4 linked regions of the Homo sapiens genome follow. The protein of the gene in region 3 interacts with the protein of the main gene of each other region in a pairwise test. Each region holds a gene or a part of one and is shown on either strand. Other genes may lie near its edges. The genes, in order: MKNK1, UBXN2A, PHAX and PDPK1.

Evidence for each region.
Region 1: the proteins of PHAX (region 3) and MKNK1 interact in a two-hybrid assay, tested with the Homo sapiens proteins (one large-scale study listed by BioGRID and IntAct).
Region 2: the proteins of PHAX (region 3) and UBXN2A interact in a two-hybrid assay, tested with the Homo sapiens proteins (one large-scale study listed by BioGRID and IntAct).
Region 4: the proteins of PHAX (region 3) and PDPK1 interact in a two-hybrid assay, tested with the Homo sapiens proteins (one large-scale study listed by BioGRID and IntAct).

The regions. Positions count from the first base shown.
Region 1 is NC_000001.11:46,601,106-46,606,021, reverse strand, and holds the start of MKNK1 (MAP kinase-interacting serine/threonine-protein kinase 1), read left to right. Parts: upstream 1-1,753; 5' UTR 1,754-1,837; exon of another isoform or gene 1,838-1,857; intron 1,858-2,234; exon of another isoform or gene 2,235-2,277; intron 2,278-3,870; exon of another isoform or gene 3,871-4,487; intron 4,488-4,916. UniProt on the Homo sapiens protein: May play a role in the response to environmental stress and cytokines. Appears to regulate translation by phosphorylating EIF4E, thus increasing the affinity of this protein for the 7-methylguanosine-containing mRNA cap.
Region 2 is NC_000002.12:23,981,420-23,985,614, forward strand, and holds part of UBXN2A (UBX domain-containing protein 2A), read left to right. Parts: intron 1-1,476; coding exon 1,477-1,614; intron 1,615-3,253; coding exon 3,254-3,412; intron 3,413-4,195. UniProt on the Homo sapiens protein: Acts to repress the ubiquitination and subsequent endoplasmic reticulum-associated degradation of CHRNA3 by the STUB1-VCP-UBXN2A complex in cortical neurons.
Region 3 is NC_000005.10:126,603,675-126,607,869, forward strand, and holds part of PHAX (phosphorylated adapter RNA export protein), read left to right. Parts: coding exon 1-509; intron 510-4,195. UniProt on the Homo sapiens protein: A phosphoprotein adapter involved in the XPO1-mediated U snRNA export from the nucleus.
Region 4 is NC_000016.10:2,558,145-2,562,339, forward strand, and holds part of PDPK1 (3-phosphoinositide-dependent protein kinase 1), read left to right. Parts: exon of another isoform or gene 1-3,335; coding exon 3,336-3,378; intron 3,379-3,601; exon of another isoform or gene 3,602-3,626; coding exon 3,627-3,764; intron 3,765-4,195. UniProt on the Homo sapiens protein: Serine/threonine kinase which acts as a master kinase, phosphorylating and activating a subgroup of the AGC family of protein kinases.

The sequences.
Region 1 (4,916 bases), on a different chromosome or scaffold from region 3:
AAGAGCACACTCCCATGGGGCAAAACCTAGTAACAAAGGGTCCTGGGAGGTAGAGTGGCAGCTTGGTTGAGAAGTCAGGCTGGGCTTTATTTTCCTGTTGGCTCAAGGTCCATAACAAAGCTGGGCATAGTGGCTCTTCCCTGTAATCCCAGCACTTTGGGAGGCCAAGGTGGGAGGATCATTGAGCTCAGGAGTTCGAGACCAGCCTGGGCAACATGGCAAAACCCTGCCTCTAAAAAAATTCAAAAATTAGCCAGTCATGGTAGTGCATGCCTGTAATCCCAGCTACTCAGGAGGCTGAAGCAGGAGGATCACTTGAGCCCAAGCAGAGGTTGCAGTGAGCAAAGCTGGTGCCACTGCACTCCAGCCTGGGGAACACAGTGAGACCTTGTCTCAGAAAAAAAAAAAGAAAAAAAATTCCAAAACAATATTTGGAGCAGGGACCTAGGTAGTAAGCCATCCTCTCCAGCCTGGGGCAGAGCATCCACCTATTGAGTAAAGGATGCCGCATCACCCTCGGCTCCCATAAACACTGCAGCCTCTGAGGTTTCCTGTTGCCTCTCCTCCCTACCCCACAGCAAGCTGTGGAATATGTGGTGAAATAAGCCACAGTCATGACTAGAGCTCCACCTGCTTTGGGGGAGCCCTCCTTCCTCTGAGCACCCCCAGAGCCCTCAAAGATGTTAACTGAATTTGATTGCCATGTGAGGGACATAGCAACTTTGAGAACCTGGAACATAGGTCCTGAATCTCTTGGGCTATTGCCACAGGCAACAGGGAAGGGAACAGGCCAGCAGGGCCTCTGAAGACTTGAAGCTTGGATCGGCCTCCACGGAAGGTAATGAGTGGGAGAAGTCAGGATACATCGGGGCCCTCAGGTTGGACCGCAGGATTCCAGAAGGGAATGAACACAGAAGCTTGATCTTCCGCCTCTCCGGCCTTCACCCAGATTGGGAAATCTAGCAAAGTCCTGAATGTTCACTAATATTCCCAATCTCCTTCCATCATACAGATGAAAAGACAGCCCCGACAAGACAGGGAACAAATGTTTGTCAGGTGGATGATGGGAAGCAAGTCCCTGGGGCTCTTTAACTAGCTTGGCTTACCAAATCCTCACGATAATCCTGAGACAGGCAGGGAAGGGATGTTCACCTCCATCACTCGGAGTCAGCGCCTGAATTAAATCCCAGTCCACACTCTCATCCTTTCTCATCGCAGCTGCAGACTTGGGAAGGGGATGTGGGGAGACTGGTTGAGGCATTAACCTATTTACAGTTGTTTTTCCCCAAGAAATGAACTTTTAAAAGTTTTAAAAATTTTGAAATACTGGGGATAATGTTGTACTCAAGGAGAAACTCTTATGGTGAAATTCTAGGCACTCAGACTTTTAAAGAAATTGTACAGAATTGGCCCCCGTTTTAGAAAAGACTAGCAGCATTTCCCCACATATAAAAGGCATTTTAAAATTCCTTCCTGGCCTGCAGAAGCTCTCAGTACATGTTAATTACACCTGTCGCGCCCGGCCTCCTACCTTCCCGGGCTTCTCCACCCTCCATTCGGAAAAGAAAGCGCCGGAGGAGCTAAGCCCCACCCGCTTGCCAGCAATCTCCCCTCTCCCCGCCTCTTCCCTGTCACGCCTGCGCAGTTCGCTCAGCTCGAGCCCCCTGCCCTCAGGCGGCCCTGGGTAGCCATCAGGGCGCAGGCGCAGCTCCGCCCCCTCACCCTCCTCTCTGATCGGGCCCACCCCCTGGATCTAGCACCGCCTCTTCCGCGTTCTCGGAGGAGCGATCTGCAGGTAGGGGTGCGCGCGACCGCTCCCCGGCGGGAGCCAGCGAAGGTAAAAGCGAGACCTGCGAGGTATTCCTCCGAGCTAAATGGGGCCGGGGTCTGTGAGTGAGCTCGTGTGCCCGGAAGGGGGCAGTCAGGGCCTTCACGGCTGCCCGAGGTCACGACGCGATTCAGCTGCGGAGGGACAGCCTAAGGGGACGCTTTTCAGGACTGTCCCGAGCTGTCTGCGACCTCTGTGCCTGGGGTCGGGGCGTGGCCGGTGTCCGAGATGGCGCTTACTCTGTGGCCCGTTTGAGACTCAGTCTCTCCCAGGGATCAGGACCGAGGCTATGGCTGGGCGCAGGGCTCAGGCAGTCCAGTATCATGAATAGTTTTTCACGTGAGGAATTTGTGAAATCTGTGTACTGCGTTATTTTTAAGTTAATTGTTTTCATTTATTTTCAGTATTTAAAGGCTCCTGCCTGTGTGGATGGCTGTCCACAGGGAAAGGTAATAAGAGTGTCAGGTGCACCCTGTCTTCTAGAGAGCTCCAAGCTCCCTGACAGTGGCAGATCAGAGGCAGGCAGGCTCACAGGAATGAAGTGTTGTTAGAAGTGCTCAACTTCAGGGTCAGGGAGTCCTGGGTTTAGATCTCATCTCTTCCACCTCTTAGCTGTGTGTCCTGGGGCAAGTCTGCTTCCCCTCCCAGAGCTTCACTTTCTTCCCTAGGAAATGGCCATAATAGGGTCATTGTGAAGGGTGAATAGGATTATATGGAAGTCACCTAGTATGGCGCCTGTCATGTAATGGGTGCTGAATACATGGTAGCTGTGATTTCTAGGAGCTTGGTCATTTTGGATTGGGGTACTTTAGAAAGGCTCTGAGAGAAGAGTTGTTGTGACCTGGGCCTTGAAGCCTCAGTGGGATTTACAGATGGAACTGACCCTGCAGAATGGGAAGGGCACCACTGCCCATGCGCCAGGCACATGCTGGACAGTAGGTGTAATGTCTCACTGGATCACCACCCATCAGCCAGGTGCTTTCAGCCCACTCTCCTTAGCTTCAGCCCTTCATTAGAGGGCTGGGCTGGAAGTGATGTGAAGAGGAAATCCAGGGTTGGGTTTTATATGGAACTGAGCCAGCTAGAGGCTTTGGTGCCCCCTCTGCCCATCTGCTCCCACCTCAACACTTCTCTCTCTGTAATCCAGAGAGTTGGTTAGGAGTCCTGTTACTCTGGTATTTTGCAGATGTTGACAGTTGTGGGGGATGGCAACTCAGATTGCATGAAGCGAAGCCATGGGAGAGGGAAGCTCTGTGAACAGGAGCTGTCAGAGCCCAGCACGTGCTTAGAAAGTGCATGTGGTCTCCTGTAATGTGGTCCCAGAGTAATTGAATTACTTAGTTCCTTTTGCATCCTCTTCATGGGTGCCCTTGTGCTCTTCCTGAGACACTACTCGGAAACCTTGGTGGGCATCATTGCCTACTATATAGAGCAGTGGTGTCCAATCTTTTGGCTTCCCTGGGCCACATTGGAAGAAGAAGAACCATCTTGGGCCACACATAAAATACACTAACATTAACAATAGCTGATGAGCTTTAAAAAAATTGCAAAAAAATCTCAGTGTTTTAAGAACGTTTATGAATTTGTGTTGGACCACATTCAGAGCCATCCAGGGCCGCGGGTTGGACAAGCTGGATGTAGAGTTTGGACTCCAGCCTCAGACAAGTTCCTGCACAATTTGTTCCCACACCTCTCCCCTCCCTGTTTCCCTTGGTTTTCCCAAACCTGCAACCTGTGCTTCAGTCAAAATAAACTAGTTGTCTCTGTTTCTCCTTTTTTTTTGAGATGGAGTCTCACTTTGTCACCCAGGCTGGAGTGCAGTGGCACAATCTCGGCTCACTGCAACCTCCACTTCCCAGGTTCAAGTGATTCTCCTGCCTCAGCCTCCTGAGTAGCTGGAATTACAGGCATGAGCCACCACACCCGGCTAATTTTTGTATTTTTAGTAGAGACGGGGTTTCGCCATGTTGGCCAGGCTGGATTCAAACTTCTGACCTCAGGTGATCCGCCTGCCTGGGCCTCCCAAAGTGCTGGTACTACAGATGTGAGCCAACGTGCCCGGCCAAATCTCTGTTTCTCAAACACTCCCTGCATGTTCCTGCTCGAGCCTTTGCTTATATTCTCTCTTCCTGGATTTCCCTCCTCCTCCTCATCTTTCAAGGCTTACATCTCTTACATCTCATGTGGCCTCCATGGTGAAGCTTTTCTGAGCCTTCTGCTGGATTAGTTGTTCCCCTTTCCATCTTCTGTAGCAAAGGCTGACCCTCTAATATAGCTCTCATCATAGTCTGCCTAGGGATATGTACACTCCATATGTACTCTGAGTACGTGGGTGGCAAGGGACCATGTCTCTTTCCTTCCTCCTCTGTCCAGCATAGGGCCAGCACATAGTAGGCCTCTTCAGTGTTTGTGGTTAAGTGAGTCAGTGACATTTTTTATTTACTAGGTTTGGCCCTTGTTTTATGAGCTGTCAGGTTCAGAATGGGACTTTGTGTTTTTCCTCCTCTTTGTGCCTAAGGAGGGCCCCAGTTTAGACTGATGCCCTAATTACAGGCATCAAAAACAAGAAAGTACAAGAATTCTGCACAAGCAGGCATTCTTCATTGCAGCCATTGTTTTCAGGCTCTTGTCTTGCCTTGACCGTGAGTTTTGTTGGAAGGTAGGTAATGCTGTGTTCAGAGACCTGCACTGGGTGTATTAATAGTACAGTTCAAACAGGGGAAAGCTCACAGGTGGTTTTCTAATCAGTTTACTCTGCCCTTGGCCTTGGGAAACAGTGGTTCCTCCCATCTGGGGACCAGCAGCTATAAATGCACATTTTCCCTTGCCAACAGCCTCAGCATGTGGAAGAGAAAGTTATTTCTTGATCAGAGAAAAATTTACATGGTTGAAGGTAGAAGGAGCTTGGAAACCAACCATCTGGTTCCGCCACTTTCATTTTATAGATGGGGAAAGGACTTGATTGAGATTACACAAGGAGGCCGGTGTGTGGCTCACGCCTGTAATCCCAGCACTTTGGGAGGCCGAGGCAGGTGGATCACCTGAGGTCAGAAGTTCGAGACCAGCCTGACCAACATGGTGAAACCCC
Region 2 (4,195 bases), on a different chromosome or scaffold from region 3:
GTGAGCCATGTTGTTGCCACTGGACTCCAGCCTGGGCAACAGAGTGAGCTCCTATCTAAAAAAAAAAAAAAAAAAAAAAAAAAAAAAATAGAAAAGTGCAGAAATCATAAATATATACTAAATGAATTTGTATTATTTCCGTTTTCAGAATAAATCAACTACTTTATTAGAATTTGTTAAAATTTGTCCTTTGGCCGGGCGTGGTGGCTCACACCTGTAATCCCAACACTTTGGGAGGCTGAGGTGGGCAGATCACTTGAGCCTAGGAGCTCAGGACCAGCCTGGGCAACATGGTGAAACCCCATCTTTACAAAAAATACAAAAATTAGCCGGGCATGGTGGCCTATAGTCCCCGCTACTCAGGAGTCTGAGGCAGGAGGATCGCTTCAGCCCAGGAGGTCAAGGCTGCAGGGAGCCATGATTGCACCACTGCACTCCAGCCTGGGAAACAGAATGAGACCCTGTCCCAAAAACAAGAAACTCAAATTATTTATTTAACAGAGATATCCAGTCTTTTGGCTTCCCTGGGCCACATTGGAAGAAGAATGGTCTTGGGGCACACATAAAATACTAAAATACACTAATACTGACGATAGCTGATAAGCTTTAAAAAAATTGCAAAAAAGTCTCATAAATCTCATAATGTTTTAAGAAAGTTTTCCAGGCACGGTGGCTCACACCTGTAATCCCAGCACTTTGGGAGGCTGAGGCGGGCAGAACACAAGGTCAGGAGATCGAGACCATCCTGGCTAACACGATGAAACTCCATCTCTACTAAAAATACCAAAAAAAAAAAAATTAACTGGGCGTGGTGGCAGGCGCCTGTAGTCCCAGCTACTTAGGAGGCTGAGGCAGGAGAATGGCGTGAACCCGGGAGGCGGAGCTTGCAGTGGGCCGAGATCGTGCCACTGCAGTCCAGCCTGGGCGACAGAGCAAGACTCCGTCTCAAAAAAAAAAAAAAGTTTACAAATTTTTGTTGGGCCACATTTAAAGCCGTCCTAGGCCACAGATTGGACAAGCCTGGTGTAGTATATAGTCATCAAGTATTTCATGACTTTAGTACTATTTTAGGTACTGCTATAAAACTCATGCTGGTTGGGGGGCAGTGGTTCACGCCTATAATCCCAGCACTTTGGGAGTCTGAGGGAGGAAGATTGCTTGAGCCCAGGAGTTCAAGACCAGCCTGGACAAGACCCTGTCTCTACAGAAAATTTAAAAAATATATGCTTTCACAATAAAAAATAATAAAAACTGATGCTGTTCATGAGCTTATGGTCTTAAAAATTATATTCCTGTGGGTTTTTGGTATTCATATTATTTAACTACATTGTTTTGAATACATTTAGTTATTTCATTGTATAGAATATTATATATTTCTGTATATTTCTACATATTCATTTTTTGTATGTACAGAATGTTTTTCAGAGAAATAAAATACATTGGGAGCTTTATCATTTTCTTTCTTTGTTTTCCAAGGGAATTACCTTCAGAATTACAGGGAATTTTTGATAAAGAAGAGGTGGACGTTAAAGTTGAAGACAAGAAAAATGAAATATGTTTGTCTACGAAGCCTGTGTTCCAGCCCTTTTCAGGACAGGGTCACAGACTAGGAAGGTAAATATGCCTATTGTCTTGTTTTGCATAGATCAAGGCTTAACTAATATTCTGTCTATCAGTATTTTACCCATGTAGACCACATGAATGGAGCTTATCATTTCTCCCATTGGAAATCAGATTTTTTTTAATGTTAATTTTTATGAGGACACATAAGTCATAGTTACCTAAGTATATATTAACAATGCCTGGCCAGGCATAGTGGCTCATGCCTGTAATCCCAGCACTTTGGGAGGCCAAGGTGGGCGGATCACCTGAGATCGGGAGTTCGAGACCAGCCTGACCAACATGGAGAAACCCCGTCTCTACTAAAAATACAAAAAATTAGCCAGGCGTGGTGGCATGTGTCTGTAATCCCAGCTCCTCGGGAGGCTGAGGCAGGAGAATCGCTTGAACCTGGGAGGCAGAGATTGCGGTGAGCCGAGATCGCGCCATTGCTCTCCAGTCTGGGCAACAAGAGTGAAACTCTGTCTCAAAAAAAAAGAAATGCCAGCAATACAGTAAAAAATCATGCAGGCTTTTTTGTTTTTCTTTTTTTCAAATCAAAAGGGCTTGGCTTATTAAGGACAGAATTCAATAGTTAAGTTCTTTTGTGTCCCTTGCACTCACCACTGTAGAGTACATGTACTAGCTTTTGAATATTATTGTTCTCTTTTTTTTGAGACAGAGCCTCACTTTGTTGCCCAGGCTGGAGTGCAGTGGCATGATCTTGGCTCACTGCAACTTCTGCCTCCCTGGTTCAAGCAATCCTCCTGCCTCAGCCCCTCTAGTAGCTGGGATTACAGGCATACACCACCACGCCCAGCCAATTTTTGTATTTTTAGTAGAGACAGGGTTTCGCCATGTTGGCCAGGCTGGTCTTGAACTCCTGACCGCAGGTGATCCACCCACCTCGGCCTCCCAAAGTGCTGGGATTACAGGTGTGAGCCACCGCACCCAGCCTATTGTTCTCTTTTATGGTTACCACTGTCTGCAACATTTTGTTCTGTGATCTATGTATGAATTTTGAGGTAATAAAAATGAAAATCAGTGTCAGTATCAAAGCCTTAAATTATTTTCAAGTTTTACAGTTTCCATCCTATCTAACAGAATATGCAGAGAGATTATATAGATATGAGAGCTCTTTGATTTTTATAAATTCTCATATTTTAAATTATCAAGATTGGTAAGGTGCATACATATTCATCCACACATACAAATATATCTGGATGCATCCTTCAGAATGATCAGGAAGTACTTTATTTAGTTTCTTTTTCATTATAACCTAAGGACTAAGCTCAATAAAGAACTTATAATTTCTTCTAGAAATTTAACCTGGGCAGTAGGTAAAGGTAAAGTCCATAGATCTATGAACCTTCTTTAAAATTATCCATTCTGTAAAGCACTACTCAAATAATACCAGTAATAATATATGTAGCTTACAAATTACTCAGATATGTATAACTTCATCAGATTCTTAGAACCATCATATATTGTGGACATAAATAATATATCTTTCTGTTATTACTGAAGAAACACATATAACTTAAAAAATCTTCCTTAAAGTTATACTTGCTATAATATTTTTATAGTAATTATTTAATAATAAAGTTTTATTGAATGGAAAAAACGTCTAACTTTGTTGTCTGGATTTCCTTAGTGCCACACCAAAAATTGTTTCTAAAGCAAAGAATATTGAAGTTGAAAATAAAAATAATTTGTCTGCTGTTCCACTGAACAACTTGGAACCCATTACTAATATACAGATCTGGTTGGCCAATGGAAAAAGGATTGTCCAGAAATTTAACATTACTCATAGGTGAGTCTTCAATTTCAGTATTTGATATTTTTTCACCAAGTTAAAATTTCATTTTTTCTTTTTGGTTCAGTCAACAGTTTATTTTTTAGAGATAGAATCTTTCTTTGTTGCCCAGGCCAGAGTGCAGTGGCACAGTCATAGCTCACTGCAGTCTTGAAGTCCTGGATTCAAGCAATCCTCCCACCTCAGCCTCCTGAGTTGTAGAACTACAGCCACATGCCACCATGCCCAGCTAACTTTTTTTTTTTAATTTTTATTTATTGCCAGCTAATTTTAAAAATTGTTTTGTAGAAAGGGAGTCTCACTGTGTTGCCCACACTGGTCTCAAACTCCTGGACTGAATTCATCGTCCTGCCTTAGCCTGCCAAAGTGCTGGGATTACAGGCATGAGCCATCGCATCCTGCCAAGCATTTTATTTATTTATTTATTTTTTTGAGTCGGAGTCTCGCTCTGTTGCCCAGGCTGGAGTGTAGTGGCACGATCTCAGCTCACTGCAACCTCTGCCTCCCAGCTTCAAGTGATTGTCCTGCCTCAGCGTCCAATGTAGCTGGGATTACAGGTTTGCACCACCAAGCCCGGCTAATTTTTGTATTTTTAGTAGAGACGGGGTTTCACCAGGAGTTTGGCCAGGGTGGTCTCAAACTTCTGACCTCAAGTGATCTGCCCGCTTTGGCCTCCCAAAGTGCTAGGATTACAGGAGTGAGCCACCTCGACCAGCCTGGCCAAACATTTTAATAAATAGTTCTCTAAACATAATTATGTCTAGACAGTTTTTTTTTTTT
Region 3 (4,195 bases):
GAAAGTTTTTCTGATTCAGATGATGATAGCTGTCTTTGGAAACGCAAACGACAGAAATGTTTTAACCCTCCTCCCAAACCAGAGCCTTTTCAGTTTGGCCAGAGCAGTCAGAAACCACCTGTTGCTGGAGGAAAGAAGATTAACAACATATGGGGTGCTGTGCTGCAGGAACAGAATCAAGATGCAGTGGCCACTGAACTTGGTATCTTGGGAATGGAGGGCACTATTGACAGAAGCAGACAATCCGAGACCTACAATTATTTGCTTGCCAAGAAACTTAGGAAGGAATCTCAAGAGCATACAAAAGATCTAGACAAGGAACTAGATGAATATATGCATGGTGGCAAAAAAATGGGATCAAAGGAAGAGGAAAATGGGCAAGGTCATCTCAAAAGGAAACGACCTGTCAAAGACAGGCTAGGGAACAGACCAGAAATGAACTATAAAGGTCGATACGAGATCACAGCGGAAGATTCTCAAGAGAAAGTGGCTGATGAAATTTCATTCAGGTGAGCATTTGAATTACAAATAAGTACTTGACCAGATGGCTTCTATTTACAGGAAATAAAATGAATGCCAAATACTTTAATGATATGTTCCTTTTTTTTTTTTTTTTTTTGGAGACAGGGTCTTGCTCTGTCACCCAGGCTGGAGTGCAGTTACTCACTGCAACCTCCGCCTCCTCGCTCAAGGGATTCTCTTACCTCAGCCTCCTGAATAGCTGGGACCACAGGTATGCACCCCCACGCCCAGCTATTCTTTGTATTTTTAATAGAGACAGGGTCTTGCCATGTTGTCCAAGCTACTCTCGAACTCCAGAGCTCAAGGGATCCACCCGCCTTTGCCTCTCAAAGTGCTGAGATTACAGGCGTGAGCCATGGGCTGGCCTAATCTATTTATTTATTTATTTATTTGAGAAAGGATCTCACTCTTGCCCAGGCTGGAGTGCAGTGCTGCAATCACACCTCACTGGAACCTAGAACTCTTGGGCTGAAAGGATCCTTCCACCTCAGCTTCCTGAGTAACTGGGACTACAGGCTCAGGCCATTATGCCTGGCCAATTAAAAAAAAAAAATTATGGCCAGACAGAGTGGCTCATGCTTGTAATCCCAGCACTTTGGGAGGCTGAGGTGAGTGGATCATGAGGTCAGGAGTTCAAGACCAGCCTGGCCGACACAGTGAAACCCCATCTCTACTAAAAATACAAAAATTAGCTGGGCGTGGTAGTGGGCGCCTGTAATCCCAGCTACTCGGGAGGCTGAGGCAGGAGAATCACTTGAACCCGGGAGGCGGAGGTTGCAGTGAGCCGAGATTGTGCCACTGCACTCCAGCCTGGGTGACAGAACTAGACTCCATCTCAGAAAAAAAAAAAAATTAGGAGTTTCACTGTGTTGCCCAGGCTGGTGTCAAACTCCTGGGAACAAGCAGTCCTCCCACATTGGCCTCCCAAAGTGCTGGGATTATATGCATCAACCACTGCGCTGTCCACAGATTTTTTTTTTTTTTTAAGAGATGGTCTTGCTCTGGTCACTCAGCTGGAGTGCAGTAGCACAATCAGAGCTCATTGAAGCTGAACTCCTGGGCTTAAGCAATCCTCCTGCCTCAACTTCCCAGATTGCTGGGATTATAGGTGTGAGCCACTGTACCTGAGTCTTTGAAAATTTTTCTTTAAGGAACTGGGATAATTTGGTTATATGAATACATTCGTAATGTATTTTTCTGTTGGTTTTTTGTTTATGAGACAGTCTTGCTCTGTCACCCAGGCTGGAGTGCAGTGGTGGTATCCTGGCTCACTGCAACGTCCCCTCATGAGAATTGCTTGAACGTGAGAGAGCCACCTGAGTAGCTGGGACTATAGGCATTCGCCACCACACCCAAATAATTTTTTTTTTTTTGTATTTTTAGTAGAGATAGGGTTTCATTATGTTGGCCGGACTGATCTCGATCTCCTGGCCTCAAGTGATTTGCCTGCCTTGGCCTCCCAAATGCTGGGATTATAGGCGTGAGCTGCGCACCCACTGTGTTTTCTTAAATTTGGACAAGCCTGATAGAATAATTTTGTAGACTTTTATGAACTGTTAAACAACTTGTTGCATTTAGTGCCATAGAGCTTTTTAAATAAAGCATATATTTTTAAATCATGGGTTGTTTTTGTTTGTTTAGTGTTTTCAAGAATTTGTGACTTTTTTCTTAACTTTGAGGTATATTTTACAGATAATATTCACCCATTTCTAGTGTTAATTTTTTTAGGAAACATATCAAGTTGTATAACCATCACCTCTGAAACATTTCTGTCACCCAGTAAGATCCCTTATGTCCACATGCCAGTTTATAGTTAATCCCTGTTCTCATTCCCAGATAACTGCTAATCTACTTTCTGTCTATAAATTTGCCTTTTTTGGATATTTCATATAAATGGTGTCATGTAGTATGTAATCTCGTGCCTTGCTTCTGTCAGCTAATGTTATGTTTTTGTTTGTTTTTGTTTTTGTTTTTTTGTGTGTGTGGTTTGTTTTTTTGATTGTTTGTTTGTTTGTTTGAGACAGAGTGTCACTCTGTTGCCCAGGCTGGAGTGCAGTGTCACGATCTCAGCTCACTGCAACCTCCGCCTCCTGGGTTCAAGCAATTCTCATGCCTCAGCCTCGTGAGTAGCTGGAATTACAGCCATGTGCTACAACGCCCAGCTAATTTTTATATTTTTTAGTAGAGACAGGGTTTCGCCATGTTGGCCAGGCTGGTCTCGAACTCCAGACCACCTCAGCCTCCCAAAGTGGTGGGATTAGAGGCGTAAGCCACTGTGCCCAGCCAATGTTGTGTTTTTGAGATTGATCCATGGTGTAGCAGGAATCAATACATTTTTATAGTGTGTGTATATATGCATATATTCATATTGAATATTCTACTTTTTGGCTATCATGAATAATGCTGTTATGAACCTTCACATCCAGATCTTTAAACACATATTTTCATATCTTTGTTTTCTTTTGTTTTGTTTTAGACAGAGTCTCACTCTGTTGCCCAGGATGGAGTGCAGTGGCATGATCTCAGCTCACTGCAACCTCCGCCTCCTGGGTTCAATCAAATCTCCTGCCTCAGCCTCCCTAGTAGCCGGGATTAGAGGCGTGCGCCACCACGCCCAGATAATTTTTTTTTTGTATTTTTAGTAGAGACAGGGTTTCACCTTGTTGACCAGGCTGGTCTCAAACTTCTAACCTCAGATGATCCACCCCCTTCGACCTCCCAAAGTGTTGGGATTACAGGCATGAGCCACCTCACCTGGCCATATTTTCATTTCTTTCAGGTAAATACCCAGAAGTAGAATTGCTTGGTGTATGGTAAATTTACAATTCATGTATTTTTACCAAGTTCAGATTTTGAATTAACATTTTCATTAGCTCTAAATTACTAATGAACAGTGTCATAAATTTGAAAACAGATACGGTTCAAGAGTAATGCAGGTGGTAGGAAAACAAGTATTTACTTTCCAGGCAAGCCTATCTGAACACCAGTACTTGATTTTTAAAATACTGGGGAAGTTTGGAATTTGAGTGCTGGAAAGAAACTTAGAGATGTTGTAAACCAAAACCTTCATTTCACAGATTAATATTAGACCTGGAGTTAAACCCTGATCCTTGTGTTCCTAGTCTATTTCTCTTTCCACAAAAATGCACTGCCTCCTGTTGAGAAGAAACAAAGGGTGCCAGGTCTGAATTCTTTTTTTTTTTTTTTTTTTTTTTTTTTGAGACGGAGTTTCACTCTCGTTGCCCAGGCTGGAGTGCAGTGGTGCCATCTTGGCTCACTGCAACCTCTGCCTCAGCCTCAGGGTTCAAGCAATTCTCCTGCCTCAGCCTCCCAAGTAGCTGGGATTATAGGCATGTGCCACCACACCCAGCTAATTTTGTATTTTTTGTAAAGACGGGGTTTCTCCACGTTAGTCAGACTGGTCTCGAACTCCCAACCTCAGGTGATCCACCCACCTCGGCCTCCCAAAATGCTGGGATTATAGGTGTGAGCCACCACACCCAGCTGAATTCTTGATCTGTTGAGAGTGTGAGCTTTGACACTGGAAGAATTACTTAGGCTACCTATGTTTCTAACCTCTCAGTGACAAAATGAAAACGATAGTACCTATCTTGTACATTCTTGAGAGAATCAGCTGGCATAGTGCATGTAAGGTTCTTAGGATTGTGCTTAT
Region 4 (4,195 bases), on a different chromosome or scaffold from region 3:
CCAAGCAGATGACGTGATGAGTGTGGCTAAATATTTAACCTGGTTTTGTAGATGAGAACGTTAGACACATCTCTTGATGGTCTGCGGAGGTTTTTTCTGATGTAGTTAATTTCATTTTAACCTGGCATCAGCAAGTTACATTCTGTGTCCTTGTGTCTCACTGGCAGGGCCCTGGGAAGCTGTTCTTTTTCTTAGATTGAAAGTTAGTATCTCTCCAGGGTTTTTGGGGACATTTATTGACCTCTTCTTATTTCTCTGTTTTGTTTTTTTGAATACATAAAACAGTACGCTCTGGACATTTGCTGGAGACACAGCCTCCAGAGTCTTGTGTTCCGAGTTTCACAAACAGGAGTATTGTCGCAGTACTGTCAAGTCACACTTGTTACCTGTCTTCGGGGTGTTTTTTCCTCTGAAAGCAAAGAAATGAAGGTCGAAAGCAGCTGACATGGGACGTTTTGCTGACGTGGGACCCATGAAGCCGTGTGTGGTTGTGGATTTAGTGAAGGTTGTAACAGGTTCAGGGGAGGCCTGAGCAACTCGGGGTGTACTGTCTCCATCTGGGCCTCTAAAGAGACAGAGTCCCGTGCCGCCACTGTGGTCGCCAAGGTGGCCGCCGTGTGCGTGCTAGGGCCATTCCAGGGAGCCCTGGGGGCACCTCACTCTGGAGGGCCTGGGTGAGTTCCTGAATAATTCTTTCTTGCCTGACCTTTGTGAAGAAACCGTAGGTGAGGTTTATTTTCCTTTTTTCTCTTTTTTACACATAGGAAATATTTCACAATGCAAAGAAAAACATGAAATATAGCTTACCCATATTCCCAACATATTGTTTTAATTAATGTTAACTTTTGCTGCCCTTACACTTTAGATTTTTTAAATTGCAGGTTTTATGAAATAATTTTTTTATAAAAGGATTATGCCCTCATGAAAAATGCCTTCAACCATGAGACTAGTCCCCAAAGTTTTGGGGACTCAGATCCTTTCAGAAAGAAGAAACTCTTTGGAAAACCTTGGGCATTCTGCATGGCTGCTTACAACCACCCAGTGAAAGAACAGGCCTCCTCTTTTCTCAGCTTTACCTGTTTTTTGAGACAGAGTCTTGCTCTGTCACCCAGGCTTGAGTGCAGTGGCATGATCATAGCTCACTGCAGCCTCGACTTCCTGGGCTCAAGTGATCCTCTTACCTCAGCCTCCCAAGTAGCTGCAGTTACAGGAATGCACCACCGTGCCCAGCTAATTGTAAAATTTTTTGTAGAGACAGGGTCTCACTTTGTTGCCCAGACTGGTCTTGAACTCCTAGGCTCGAGTGATTCTCTCCTCAGCCTTGCAAAGTGTTGGGATTACAGGCGTGAGCCACTGTGCTTGGCCTCAGTTTTACTTCCTTGTATGTCTCTTTTTAATTTAACTTTATTTTATTATGTATGTATTTATCCTTTTAGAAACAGAGTCTTGCTCTGTCACCTAGGCTGGAGTGCAGCGGTGTGATCATAGCTCACTGCAGCCTTCACCACCTGGGCTTAAGCGATCCTCCTGCCTTAGCCTCCTGAGTAGCTGGGACCACAGGCATGTGCCACCATACATGGCCCTTAACATTTATCTTGACTGAAAAAGGAAGACTCATCTGTGAAATTGCCTGTTTCCCTGGGTTCTGGAGATGGGTGGAGAGCAGGCACTGTCCCTCCAGGGGCTGTGGTCCGTGTCTTTCTGAACCTGCACCAGGGAGGTGCCCGGGAGAGCACGGTGAGCCGGAGGCTCCTCCATGGGGCTGTTTGGAATCCACAGTACTGGGTCTCAGATTACATGTGTTACCCTCAGTTCTTTCTCAGCTTTCCTGAAATGGAGATCACATAAAAGTTGATTTCCAGGGGAGGGGGAAAGGACAGTGATAGGAGGCTGGGCAAGAGCCAGCTGCAGCACCGGAGAGCCGGGAGGCCCCCTGAGGACGGTCACAACCTCCAGGGAGGGACACGTCACGCGCCATTCTCTGGAAGAGGATCCTTCCTTCTTGTAGGAAACCTGCTTGTGAAGTGTTGAGTTTAGACAACGGAAAGATCACATCAGTATCCCCTTAGAAAGGGTTCCACTAAATATCGGTGCTCGTTCACAATTCTTTCTTCCTCTTTTCTACTTATGAAGCTAGCACGTGCTCTTGTGGAGAAACGTGACCTCACAGAAACACATGAGCTAGAGAGGGGAGCCCTGCCCGGCCCACTTCCCCTTTCTCCCTGGCAGCTGAGAGCCATCCATGCGTGGCGTATTCCTCTGGGAAGACCTTGAGTATGTAGAGTCCCCAGAATCCAACTTCATTCTTCTTGAGTGCCACAAGGCGTCTCACATGGTGCTTTCCAGGATCTCTTCTGACGTGTCCCATCAGGAGTCCTGCCCCGATTGCGGCTCACAGCCCGGGGCCAGGTGGACCTGGCCCTGTGGCCTCCTGAAGGTCTTCCTGCCAGCCCCCAGGAATGTCACGGGACAGGTTTCCTCTGCTCCCTGCTCCTCAGGCCGTCCCCCTGTGGGTGTCTTAGGAGACACTTGTGTCCCACTTGGTGGTGGTGGGGCCTCCCTGGCACAGCTGCCTCATGCTCTCTGGCTAAACCGTGGGCCCACCAGGAATCTCCAGTCTGGTGCCTCAGGGTGTGCCCCAGGCTAGTCCGAGTGGAGGGTCTCTCCCCTGTTTGGGATGCCTGCCCTGCTGGAGTGCTCTGTCTCGGAGGTGGGGTTTGAGTGCAGGGCTCAGGGGTGCTGAGAGGACAGGGCAGGAGGCCTGCTGCATCCCGGGCAGGTGGCTCCCTCTTGTGGGCACGCAGGGCCATGCATTGCTGGTTTAGCTCCCTCTGTCCTTTACAGCCAGGCTCTCTTCATGGTGCCCACAAGCAACATCATACAAAATGTATGATAACAGTTATTTCCAAAAACGAAACTTCAGGGCAGCCTTTGCAATGAATGTATACTAGAAGGACATATTGTTGTCACAGAAGCCCCTGTGCCCTGCCACTTGTGGTGGCGCCACTGTCTTCCTTCTGTTGGTGAAGGGCGTGGCAGTCGAAGAGGTTCCTGAGTTTGTACTTGTGTTGCACCGTTAGGGCTGTTAGCAGCTGATCCAGAAGCTTCTGGAAACAACAGAGAGATGGATATGTTTTCTCTTAGCTGTTAGAACACATCAACACGAGCATTGGCTTTTAGCTCTACTTGTCAGTACAAGACCCAAAATATTTCACTGTAGACTCAAGCCTTCAGTGGGGACAGGAAGCGTGCGTGTGGGGCAGAGGGACTCGTCAGGCCCAGTGTCCTGGTTATTACATTGTGTGTTTCTTTTTCTCCTTTTCTTTCCCAACCAGGTTGTCCTGGCTCGAGAACTGGCAACCTCCAGAGAATATGCGAGTGAGTATGGGCTGCAGGGAGCTGTGCGTCCGGGAGCAGGGCAAGCGGCTCCGTGCAGGGCGGCTGGGGTGGCAGGGCCGGTGTTTCTGTGCTGATTTCAGGGTACAGGACACTGTTGGCTTTAGAGACCACCAGGCTGTTGTGTACAATGTTTGAAAGACTTTAATTTGTACCAGTTACCTTTGTGAGTCATGTCTTTAGTGTTTTTTGTTGTTTCTGATAGTAACTCACTTCTCTCTCACCTGAAGTTAAAATTCTGGAGAAGCGACATATCATAAAAGAGAACAAGGTCCCCTATGTAACCAGAGAGCGGGATGTCATGTCGCGCCTGGATCACCCCTTCTTTGTTAAGCTTTACTTCACATTTCAGGACGACGAGAAGCTGTGTATCCTTTGCGTGGTTGGTGCCGTCTGAAGCCACACCAGTCACCCCTCTCACTTGGAATCAGACCCTGTGTGTTCCCACAAGCAGCCCCCGCTCCCTGCCGAGTGGGGTCCCTCAGGCCGCTGACATTCAGGGAGGCAGCCGAGGCAGCGCCAGGGTGTGGCTGGGAGTCTGCACAGGACGTTACCTCCCGGAGAAGCCACCGATGTGGCTCCAGCACAGTCCTCTCTGCTGCGGCTTGCTTGGTCGGCGTCCCTTGCTCCCCTAGAGCGCCATCTTTTCTGTTATTAAACCTTGGCTCAGGAATCTGGGAGGCAAGGCCCGGTGGAAGTTGGGGTGGGCCCCACCTCTGCCCCATCCAGCTGACCTGTGGGCCTGCCAGTGGCTGGGCTGGCCACGCCACACCGTCGTCACCCCCAGCAGGTGCAGTCT